Linked DNA regions of Homo sapiens: region 2 is linked to region 1. The links come from fine-mapping of genetic effects on gene expression. A gene starts in region 1. The other region holds a variant in brackets. All regions are shown on one strand. Distances are between the middles of the regions. Region 1 holds the start of SYNGR2 (synaptogyrin 2). Region 2 holds the start of TMC6 (transmembrane channel like 6).

Region 1 (5,000 bases):
CCTCGCCTCTCAGGTGCTGTCACATCTCTCTGGGTGTAGGGAGAGGGAGGGGGGCACACTGCGAAAAGGCCCAGCCCCTCCCCCCCACCTGCTCCCCTCTTCCCTGGAGAGGCACCCCACCTCCTGGTGGCCCAGTCCTATGGTTCAACTCTCACGTGGTCCAGCTCACCTGGGTTGACTGTGAGCCCCACCTGGCACACCTGCTGTTGTTAATCTGCACCTGCAACTAGCAAAGGGGGGTCTGGAATTCTTCCGGGTTCAGTCAGCCTGTGATCCCACACCTCTGTCTGTACAACCTCCGCTCCCCACTCCAACACACACAGAGCCTGCCCCAGCCTACCCTGCACCAGACCCTCTGTACCGGTTTTTCTTGGGATGGAGGTAGAGAGGGACGGAGGCGAGAGGGGGCTGAACTGGAACTGGATTAAACTTTGCCATCTGCCTGTCGCCCTGAAAACTTCATTTCTGTTTGCATGCCATATATATATTTTTTTATATGTGGTCTTTTCTTTTTTTTTTTTTTTGAGATGGAGTCTCGCTCTGTCGCAATGGTGCAATCTCGGCTCACTGCAACCTCCGCCTCCCGGGTTCAAGCGATTCTCCTGCCTCAGCCTGCCAAGTAGCTGGGACTACAGGCACGCGCCACCATGCCCAGCTAATTTTTGTATTTTTAGTGGAGACGGGGTTTCACCATGTTGGCCAGGGTGTTCTCGATCTCCTGACCTCGTGATCCGCCTGCTTCAGCCTCCCAAAGTGCTGGAATTACAGGCGTGAGCCACCACGCCCGGCCGATATGTGGTCTTACTCTGTCACCCAGGCTGGGGTGCAAAGGCGTGATCTTGGTTCACTGCAAACTCCGCCTCCTGGGCTCAGACAATTCTCCCACCTCAGCCTCTGGAATAGCTGGGACTGCTAGTAGCTGCCACCACGCCTCGCTAACTTTCGTTTTTGGTTTTGTTTGTTTGTTTGTTTGTTTGTTTGTTTTGTTTGTTTTGAGATGGACTCTTGCTCTGTTGCCCAGGCTGGGGTGTAGTGGCTCGATCTCAGCACACGGCCACCTCTGCCTACCGGTTTCAAGCAATTATCCTGCCTCAGCCTCCCAAGTAGCTGGGATTACAGGCGCTTACCACAACGCCCAGCTAATTTTTTTGTTGTTGTTGTATTTTTAGTAGAGACGGGGTTTCACCATGTTGGCCAGGCTGGTCTCAAACTCCTGACCTCAGGTGATCCAACCGCCTCGGCCTCCCAAAGTGCTGGGATTACAGGTGTGAGCCACTGCGCCCGGCCTTGCACACCATCTTTTTTTTTTTTTTTTTTTTTTTTTTTGACACAGAGTTTTGCTCTTGTTGCCCAGGCTGGAGTGCAATGGCACAATCTCGGCTCACCGCAACCTCCACCTCCCAGGTTCAAGCGATTCTCCTGCCTCAGCCTCCCGAGTAGCTGGGATTACAGGCATGCACCACCACACCAGGCTAATTTTTGTATTTTTAGTAGAGACGGGGTTTCTCCATGTTGGTCAGGCTGGTCTCGAACTCCTGACCTCAGGTGATCCAACCGCCTCGGCCTCCCAAAGTGCTGGGATTACAGGTGTGAGCCACCGCTCCCGGCCTTGCACACCATCTTAAGTGTGACGCCACACTGCCCTTCACAGCCTTGGGGCTCTGCCCAGACCAGGAGGAATGGGGAGGGGGTCTTTGACCCTACCCCAGGCTTAGCCCCAGAGAGGAGGAAAGAGTGGCAGGCCAGGCAGGGAGGGGCTCCAGGGTGTGGCCTGGGTTTTTCAGTGGGATGGGGGAGGGGTTGCTTATGAGCCTGGGTGGGTTCTTGGTAGGTGGTGGGCTTCCTAGAGGAGGCGGTGGGAGGGCAGGGGCAAAGAGGGTGAGCGGTCCTCAGTTCGTCCGTCTTCCCGGGGGACTCTCTGACCCTTTCTGGTCCGTGCTGCGGCCGGCGTGGCCCGGAGACTAGCCCCTCAACCCCGAGGTGGGGTGGACCCGGGTGCTCCGCGGCCACAGCCCCTCCCCGCCTCTAGAAGCGCAGTCCCGCGGCTCGCCCGCCGCTCGCGAGGGCCGCACTTTGCCCTCGGTCCCTAGCGGCGCCTGGCCACGCCCCCGGCGGGTGGAGTCGGGCGGGGCGCCGGGCAGGTTCCTCTGCGTTCCGCGGCGGCGGCAGCGGCGGCGACGGCGACATGGAGAGCGGGGCCTACGGCGCGGCCAAGGCGGGCGGCTCCTTCGACCTGCGGCGCTTCCTGACGCAGCCGCAGGTGGTGGCGCGCGCCGTGTGCTTGGTGAGCCCGGGGAGGGCGGGCCGAGGGCACCCTGGGGACCCCCTCTCCGTCGCCAGGCCCGGCGGGGCCCCTAGCCCACGAGCGCGACAGGTGGCGGCGGCCGCGTCCGGGGCCTGGCGGCGAGCGGGGCCGGCGTCCAGCGTCCCGGGCCCCGCCTTCCCGCCCTCCACAGTCTGTCCCGCTGTCCCCTCCCGGTCCCGGGTCCCGCCACCCACCCCACCCCCAGCCTCGCGCCCCGACGCGGGGTGTCCGGATCTCCGCAGGGAGCGGGCCCCTGCCTCGCTGGCAGTGGGAGGAGTTTGGGGGCGGCTCCCGGACAGGTGGCCCGCACGCCGCGACTCCCAGATTGGGGAGTTCACCGGGACGGGGTTTTCCGAAGCCACGTGGGGTAAGGGAGGGGGCGGGGGGCGACCCAACGCCCGGAAACAGGGTGTCCTTCCCACTCGGGGCAGGCCACGGGTCCGCCTTCCCACCCGAAGTTGAGGGACCCCAAGATGTACCCCCTCCCTGTAAGGTGGGCAATACCTCCAAAACCAGGTTTTGTGTGTGTGTGTGTGTGGCGGGGAGGGGGCCTGTTCTTGGACAGCCAGCCCTGAAAGCTGGAGGGGGTGGCATGAGGGGGCAGGCAGAGGTGGGCCTGCTGTGCCCAGACCATGCCTGGGCCTGGAGCTTCTGAGGTCCTCCAGGGCGCCCACACCAGCTCCCAGCCAGGCTGTGGGATCTGATCGCCTCTGTCCTGGGCTGTGTCCAAGAATCAGGTGCCCAGTGGGTCGGGATGGCAGTGCCAGGAGTCCTGGATGGGCACCCTGCTCCCATCATCCCGGAGATCCGGCTTCATCTCCATCTGGGGGCGGGGCCTGTGACTGCCAGCTCCAGAGCCCTATGGAGAGCTCCCTGGGACAACAGGGCAGGACTGGCAGGGGAGAGTCCTGGGGCCATCCCAGAGGGATCCTGATGCTCACAGACCTGTCCCACACCTGCTGAGGTGGAGCAGGCGTGGGTGGTGGCCTTCAAGTTTAGGGAGGTGGTATGGGGCTCTTCCCAAGGGGCTGGAGCTCCCCTACATCCACCCTGGGTCCTCCAGGTGTCTGAGTTCAGAGCTGTATCCACAGGCCTGAGTTAGTCCCCTTGTAGTGCCCTGTGCATGCAGGGCCCTCTGTGGGGTGGGAGACAGACTGGGAGGGACCAGGATGCCACAGAGGCTGCAAGTCCTTGTGTGGAGACAGCTGGCCAGGCTGAACCAGGGAGGGTTCCAGGGGTTCCAGGAGGTGAAGACACAGGGGCGCCAGCATGGCCTTCCCAAGAGGGCCTGTCCACCTTCACCAAGGTGTTCAGGCAGAGGCTGGGTGCTGTAGAAGTGACTTGGGCTGAAGGTGACGGGGGATGGGTAGTCTTTGTGACTTGGCCTGTCTTGGTTAAACCTCTTTCAAGGTGAGGTTGGGCTGGGGATGGAAGGACTGCCCTTCATCCATCAGGTACCTAAGCAGAATGATTCCTGCAGCAGGCCGATGGGGCAGGAGCAGCCCCTGCCTAGGAGGTCCCTGCCCATTCCCCACCCCTCCCCGGTCCAGGATTCCCAGGGGCAGGCCCCCTGGTGCCTGCAGATTCTCATCCTGGGGTGCATCAGGAAGCACTTTGCTCATCAGCTCACCTCCACAAGTTTGGAGGGGCTAAGATGTCAGCCTCCAAAAGGGGACAGCAGGCTGGGCGAGGTGGCTCATGCCTGTAATCCCAGCACTTTGGGAGGCCGAGGAGGGTGGATCACCTGAGGTCAGGAGTTCCAGACCAGCCTGGCCAACATGGTGAAACCCTATCTCTACTAAAAATACGGGTGTGGTGGAGGGCACCTGTAATCCCAGCTACTAGGGAGGCTGAGGCAGAATTGCTTGAACCCAGGAGGCAGAGGATGCAGTGAGCCGAGATCGCACTATTGCACTCCAGCCTGGGCAACAAGAGCAAGACTCCATCTCAAACAACAACAAAAACCCAAAAGGGGACAGCAGTAGTGGGAGAGGCCAGCATCTGTACACCCCATCAGGGTCCCCGCTGTGTGTGCCCCTCAGGCGGCCACCAGCCCTACCAGGTCCTCCCCTCCCGGCAGGTCTTCGCCTTGATCGTGTTCTCCTGCATCTATGGTGAGGGCTACAGCAATGCCCACGAGTCTAAGCAGATGTACTGCGTGTTCAACCGCAACGAGGATGCCTGCCGCTATGGCAGTGCCATCGGGGTGCTGGCCTTCCTGGCCTCGGCCTTCTTCTTGGTGGTCGACGCGTATTTCCCCCAGATCAGCAACGCCACTGACCGCAAGTACCTGGTCATTGGTGACCTGCTCTTCTCAGGTATCTGCCTGTGGCACCTCCATTTGATCTTGGGGGAGGCATTAACTCTAGGGTTCCGCAGCTGGGAGGGTCTCGGCCTCTCTGGGAGGGGCAGGGAGCAGCTCACTCCTCCAGGGCATTTTTAGGAAAGGGTTTTCAGCTAGTGTTTTTCCGTGCTTGAATGGCACCAGCCCTGCCTGGGGTAGCTAGAAGCTGAGTGGACCTGCAGCACACCCGAGCAGATGGGCTTTGCCTCTGCCCCTTTTGTCCCCTAGGCTGTCTGCTGTGGCCCACCCTGCCAAGGCCCGAGTGTGGGGGACTTTGGAGGTGGCTCCCGGCCCGGCTTCCAAGTCCTCCCCTCCATAGTGTGGAGGCTCCCCCGGGAGGTCCCTGCCCTA
Region 2 (5,500 bases), 41 kb before region 1:
TGAGGCCGGAGGAGGCACTGAGGCCACCCCAGCCCTGCCCAGCCGCCCCAGCCCCAGGGCAGACCAGGGGCCCATACCAGCACGCAGGCATATCTGAGCCGGCCACAGCAGGAGCAGACCCCGCCGCTGCCCGGCTGGCCCCTCCACTTCCCCCTCGGGGTCCTGCTCTTCTCTCTGGGGACAGAGGCAGCCATAGGTGCCTGGACCAATGAGGGGCCTGACTCTCTCCTTCCTGGAGACCGGCCACCCACGGGCTCAGCCCCTTCTCCCCCACCACCTAGCCCAGCTGAGGAAGTGGGTCTGGGGGCGCAGCAGCGGCGGCATGGTCAGGGTCGGGGCTGCTCACCGCAGGCTGCGTTTCTCAGCCAGGCTTAAGGGCATCCCGCGAAGCATGTGGTCCCGCTGTGCCACTGCCAGGCTCTGGAGCTCCTTCACCAGGAGGCTCTGCTTCTCTGCGAGAGGGAGAGGGAGGTCCTGCCCATCCCCAAGTGCCCCTCCCTGCAGCCCGAAGCCGGGACCCTGGTCAGGCCTGTGTGTCCCTGCGGCACCGTCCCGAGACACCTCGGTGCCCTTATTTGAGCTTCAGTCGCCAATCAGCCGTGTGTTTGCTTCAGTCAGCGACAAGCAGGAAGCTCACAGAGCACAGGGGCCTGTTTCCCACGCACGGTCCCCGACTCGGGGCCCAGGGCCACAGCCCTCCAAGCACTCCAAGGCGCTTGTGAGGTAAGACCCCCACTTCCCTGTCCCCGTGGGTCCCTGCAGAGGGACGGGGGGGCCTTCAGGCAGCCTGCTAAGGGATAGGAGAGGGGCCTCTGGCTCTGCAGCACCCCAGCCACCGCCCAGGCCAGGCTGGCCTCTTGCACCCCACCCCAGGCCGGTGTCCGCCACTGGGGCTCCAGTGCCCACTCACTCACCCTCCTCCTCCAGGGCCGTGGGGTCCAGCTCCAGGTCGTACAGGCGGAGGCTGGGCCAGGCGGAGCGGACAAAGTTCCCGAGCAGGGGCCGGCTGCTCCTGCACCGAAGCTGCACCGTGCGGTTGTAGTACTGGGAGATGATGGCACCTCGGCTGCGGCCTATGGAGGCAGCTGGGCAGGGCCGGGCCGGGCAGGGCCAGGCCTCCCTCCCCTCAGGATGGGCTCACCACAGGCCTCTGCGTCCCTCACCCCTTCCCAGGACCCAGGAAAATCCTTTCAACAAAGACTTCAGGCACCACTGCATTCCGAAAGCCTATTTTTACCCCGTGATGACTCTGGAGTCATTTTTGGAGCCCAGCGAGGGCCACATGGGGCTGTGCTGGGCCCCCAGGCAGCAGATGGGATGGGCTAGGAGCCCGCCCTGGGCCTGGCTCTGAGCTACGGGAGCAGCCACTACCCAGGGAGATGCCTGGCAGGAAGCCCAGCCCAGCCCCAGGGACTGGGGTCAACTCGGGGCCGGGGCCGAGGCCGAGGCTGAGGGTCCCACTCACCAATGGTGCGGCTGGGCATGCTGGCCAGGATGCGGAGTGTGGCCGTGCTCTGGGTGCCCTCGGGCCGCCAGAGTGTCTGCTGGCTACTTCCTACAAAGCAAGAAAGACTCACCAGGGGTCCTGGAGATGCCATTGGCCACAGTATCTCCCACCCCATCCCAGGCCTGCAGAGCTGGGAGGCCCGTCCTGAGGGGCTGGGGCACCCAAGTCTTGGTCCACACCACCCAGCATCCAGGCCTGAGCTCACCTGTCACCTCCCGCTCTCTCTGCTGCAGCTCCAGCCCCTCCTGGGCCGTGCACTGGCTCTGCTCCTGGATGAGCTGCTGGAAGGAGTCGTGCACTTCGCTTTCATCATAGGGGCTGGGGCCCTGGCTGCAGAGGGGGTTGGCGGGGGGGTCAGGCTCCAGCCACCTCTCTCCTTCCAGCAGCCCCTGCTCAGGTGACCTCTCCGTGGGGGGTGGAACATTCCAGCCTCCAGCCCCCAGCCCCAGAGCGCTTACCCCTGGTCCCCTGGGGTCTCAGGGACATCGAGGATGAAGGCCAGTGGCTGGGCCATGTCTCTGGCCAATGCCCGCTAGTCTGCAGACCTAGGGTAGCTCAGAGCCTGGGCGCCACCTCCGGAGCCCCCATCTGATGAGACAGGGGCACAGAGCCAGGGGTGGTCTTCAACGCCTGGCAGCTGTCCACACCACCCATTCCTGGGGGAACCACAGGAGGTGCCACTCACAGCCCAGACAGTCCCGCCCACCCCCCTATCACCCCAGGTACATAAATGGTGAGGCACCGAATAAGCCTCATGCCAGAATGGAATGGGGGGCCCCCTCCAGTGTCAGGGGAGGGGAGAGAGGAAGGAAGGGTGTGGGGTCTGCAGTTCCACATCTGTTTCCTCGATGTCGCCAGTCCCTGGGAAATGGGGAAGAGGTAGGGTGCCTGTAGACACAGCCCCTTTCAGGATCTCCATGCCCAGGGTTCTGGCACAGAGACACCTCCTTTTTGGAGAGAAAGGTCAGAGTAGGCTGTAGGCCTTCTCTGCGTCTGCCCTGTGACCTCAAAGAACTTCCTCTAGCAGGAAATTAGCTGCTGGAGCCCTCACCCCCAACCAGCC[C/G]CAGGCGGAAGCAGCACAGGGGGCTCCTCCCCCACACACAGAGGTCACTCCATGCCACCGCCGTCAGGGCGCCAAGGTCCTCATGTTCTCAGAAGACCCACTGCCCTGCATTCCATCATCCCAGGGCGGCCGGCTGGGGGTGGCCAGGACCTCAACAGGCCTCCTTTGTCCTGGCTCTGCCGTCACCCGGCACAACTGGAACCAGAGCAGCCTTGTCTGGGGCCCTGGGCTCGGGGCCCGTTCATCTGTGAGAGTGGAGCCAGGACTCAGCTCCCAGCCACCAGCGAGTCCTGCCGGCCTCTGCCCTGGACTCCTCCTGCGCTCACCCTCAGGAACTCAGGGCTCAAAGTCGGCCGGGTTGAAGGGCGCTTTCCTCGGACAGGCAAAGCCCGGGGGCGCCCCGACAGAGCAGCTCCTTGCAGGGGTGCCAGTCACAGGACCGGACGGCGCCCTCCCTCAGTGTCCTGGGTGCCATCTTCGGGCCCAGGCCCCACACCACCCCCTCCCTCCAGCAGGAGCAAAGACGTGGGAAAACCAGCCCAGAGCTGGGTCCGAGGCGGCCCCACCCAGCCTAACACGGGACAGCTGCCGAAAGAGGGGCTGAGGACGCCCCACCCAGTCCCTAGAGCTGGAATCCCTTCCTCCAGACAGGCCCTTCTAAGCTCAGGGAACCCGGGGACTCGGGCACCCAGCGCCCCAGCACTCCGCCCCGAGGCCCAGGCAAGTCCAGCGGAGTTTCCAGGCGCACCATTCCTGAGCTAGGTGGGGAGAGGCTGGGTGGCGCCCGTTTCCAGGAACCCCCACCCCAGCCGGCAGCGAGCTTCCCGGGAGCAGCCGCTACCCAGGGAGAACCGCAACCTGGCCCCAGAGCCCAGAGCGGCTGCAACTCTGGGGCCACCGAACCCGTCCAGCCGGCCTCCCTGTCCCCCGCCCCTTCCCATCCCGGCCACACCCCCTCCCCTCCCCTCCCCGTGCCCTGGCGCTCGGCTGGGGGACCTGGGTGGGGGCTGCGGATTTTGCTCCCCGCACTGTCCTCCCCGCCCCTGCCGCTCCCAGCTCTGTCCGAGCCGGAGGGTCAAGCCCTGGGAGCTCCAGGAGCACCCGGGGAGGGAACTCGGCTGCCAAATGGCCCCAGAGGCCGAAAGGAATTCAGGGGGGATTGCCGCTGTCCCCGCATAGGAGAAGCAGCTGGGGCTGGCGGGACCCGGGACCGGGATCGCGGCCGCTCACCTGGGAGGCGCCGGGGAGGAGGGGCCGCGCGCGCAGCCAGGGCTCACCTGTGCCCCGCAAGAGCCGCCGGGAACTGAGGTCTCGGCTCTCCTTGCCAAGGGAGTGGCAAAGGGCCCCAGGGGCGACTGGGCCAGTCGCAGGTCTGCCGGGGCCGGGGGAGTAGCCGCACCTCCCGGCCCACGTGGGCGGGGGGGGGGGGGGCGGGCCTCGGCTATCACGTGACCCGGCCCGGCCCGCGGCGCCCCCGCCCTCCTCCGGGCGCCCCGCGGCGACTATGCCTTCCTCCCCTGCCAACTTCCGACCCCTCCTCCTGAGGTCTGAGCTGGGCTGGATTCATTCCAGCCCCTGGTTGAAGTCCCCAATTTTTCTGACGCTCAGTTTCCCCAAGTTCCAAAAAGGGGCAATATTTCCAGACTCATCTGCTTCCCATGGTTAGGGATCGTCCAAGTAAGATGCCGCCGAAAGCCCCAGGGACACAGAGTATCTCACTCCAGATTGGGCAGCGCCCCCCCCCCCGCCGCCCCCGCAAGCCTCCTGCTGACTCTCCCCGACCCCGGCGGGGGGAGCCTGGTTATCTCCCACTCCTGACACCTGGGCGGGGTTCATTGTTTATCTAGCAAGAGTTCTGGCTCACTTCCTGTGTGCTGTGTGGAGAGGAGGGGATGAAAAGGAGGACACGCTGACACTTAGGTGACTGTCCCCAGGTGCTGTACCCGTTGCCCTGTTTTCTGTTATTCCCCATGAGCCAGGAAGGTATGCACTGATATTCCCATTTCACAGATGAGGAAACTGAGGCTGAGAGAAGTTAATCACCCTTTAGGGTGCCCCCAGCCAAAGCAGGAGACTTAGTGGTCCACCTGGGAACTCTATGGAGGAAACTGCCTTTGAGATTGTACCCCCCACCCCAAGCCCATTTGGAAGGGAGGGTCATTCCTGGCGGGGAGAAGCCATGAAGCAGGCAGGGTGAATGTGAGCTGGGGCCCAGGAGGGCAGGAGAGGGCACTGCTGCAGGGGAGAGCAGGCAAGCAAAAGCGAGGACCAGGCAGGGGTCAAGGCTGGGGCCTTTTGGAGCTGCCAGTGTGGTCCTCAGATGGCTACCCCAAGCTGGTTCTTGGCAAGTGGCACCCTGGCATGGAGACCCAGCCCCTGCCTCTCCTCCCACTGCTTCCCCCTCCCTGCATACCCACACTGAATTTGCATGAATGCCACCTCCTCTGGGGAGCCTCCCCAGATTGAACCCTGGTGGAGCACCTACCACTTCCTATTGACATGTACATCTGTGGTTCTGTGCCCCCTCCTACCCCAGCCCACTGTGTGCCCAGCACCAGCACATAGCTTGCGCCTGACACACAGAAAGGACTCTGGAAACCAGGAAGGAGGTGGGCAGAGAGGCAGAAAAGCTATGAACATTCAGACCTGAGATGACTGGGCCCTATAGCAGGTAGAGAGGGAGCAGAGAGGAAGGGCTGCGGGCTTCCCAGGGGCCCAAGGACAGAGAATTGGCAAAGATATGTCTTAAACATCTAGCCTGGGAGAGCATGAATGGAGCCAATTCCTGAGCACTTACTACCGGCCAGGTGCTAGGCCTGGGTCTTGGCACAACCATAACGCCAATGACAGGGGCTGGAAGTACAGCAGTAACACCAAGAGTATCTGGAAACCCAGCAGCCAGGTTCTGGGGAGCCCACCATCCTGTCATT

Evidence for each region.
Region 2: its variant is fine-mapped to the expression of SYNGR2 in whole blood (TOPMed, PIP above 0.99). The same link has a PIP of 0.9 or more in T cells.

What each region holds. Positions count from the first base shown.
Region 1 is chr17:78,166,432-78,171,431 of GRCh38, forward strand. SYNGR2 (synaptogyrin 2) reads left to right here and starts at 2,150. Exons shown (of 4, transcript NM_004710.7): 1 at 2,150-2,284; 2 at 4,386-4,623. The coding sequence starts at 2,186. RefSeq lists silencers at 1,813-2,422, 2,453-2,612.
Region 2 is chr17:78,124,812-78,130,311 of GRCh38, forward strand. It overlaps TMC6 (transmembrane channel like 6), which reads right to left and starts at 3,944. Exons shown (of 20, transcript NM_001127198.5): 1 at 3,801-3,944; 2 at 1,966-2,095; 3 at 1,713-1,837; 4 at 1,466-1,555; 5 at 915-1,073; 6 at 347-452; 7 at 78-174. The coding sequence starts at 2,021. RefSeq lists silencers at 1-227, 2,058-2,107, 2,158-2,237, 3,508-4,037 and an enhancer at 2,578-2,827. The variant C/G (reference allele first, on the strand shown) is at 2,571.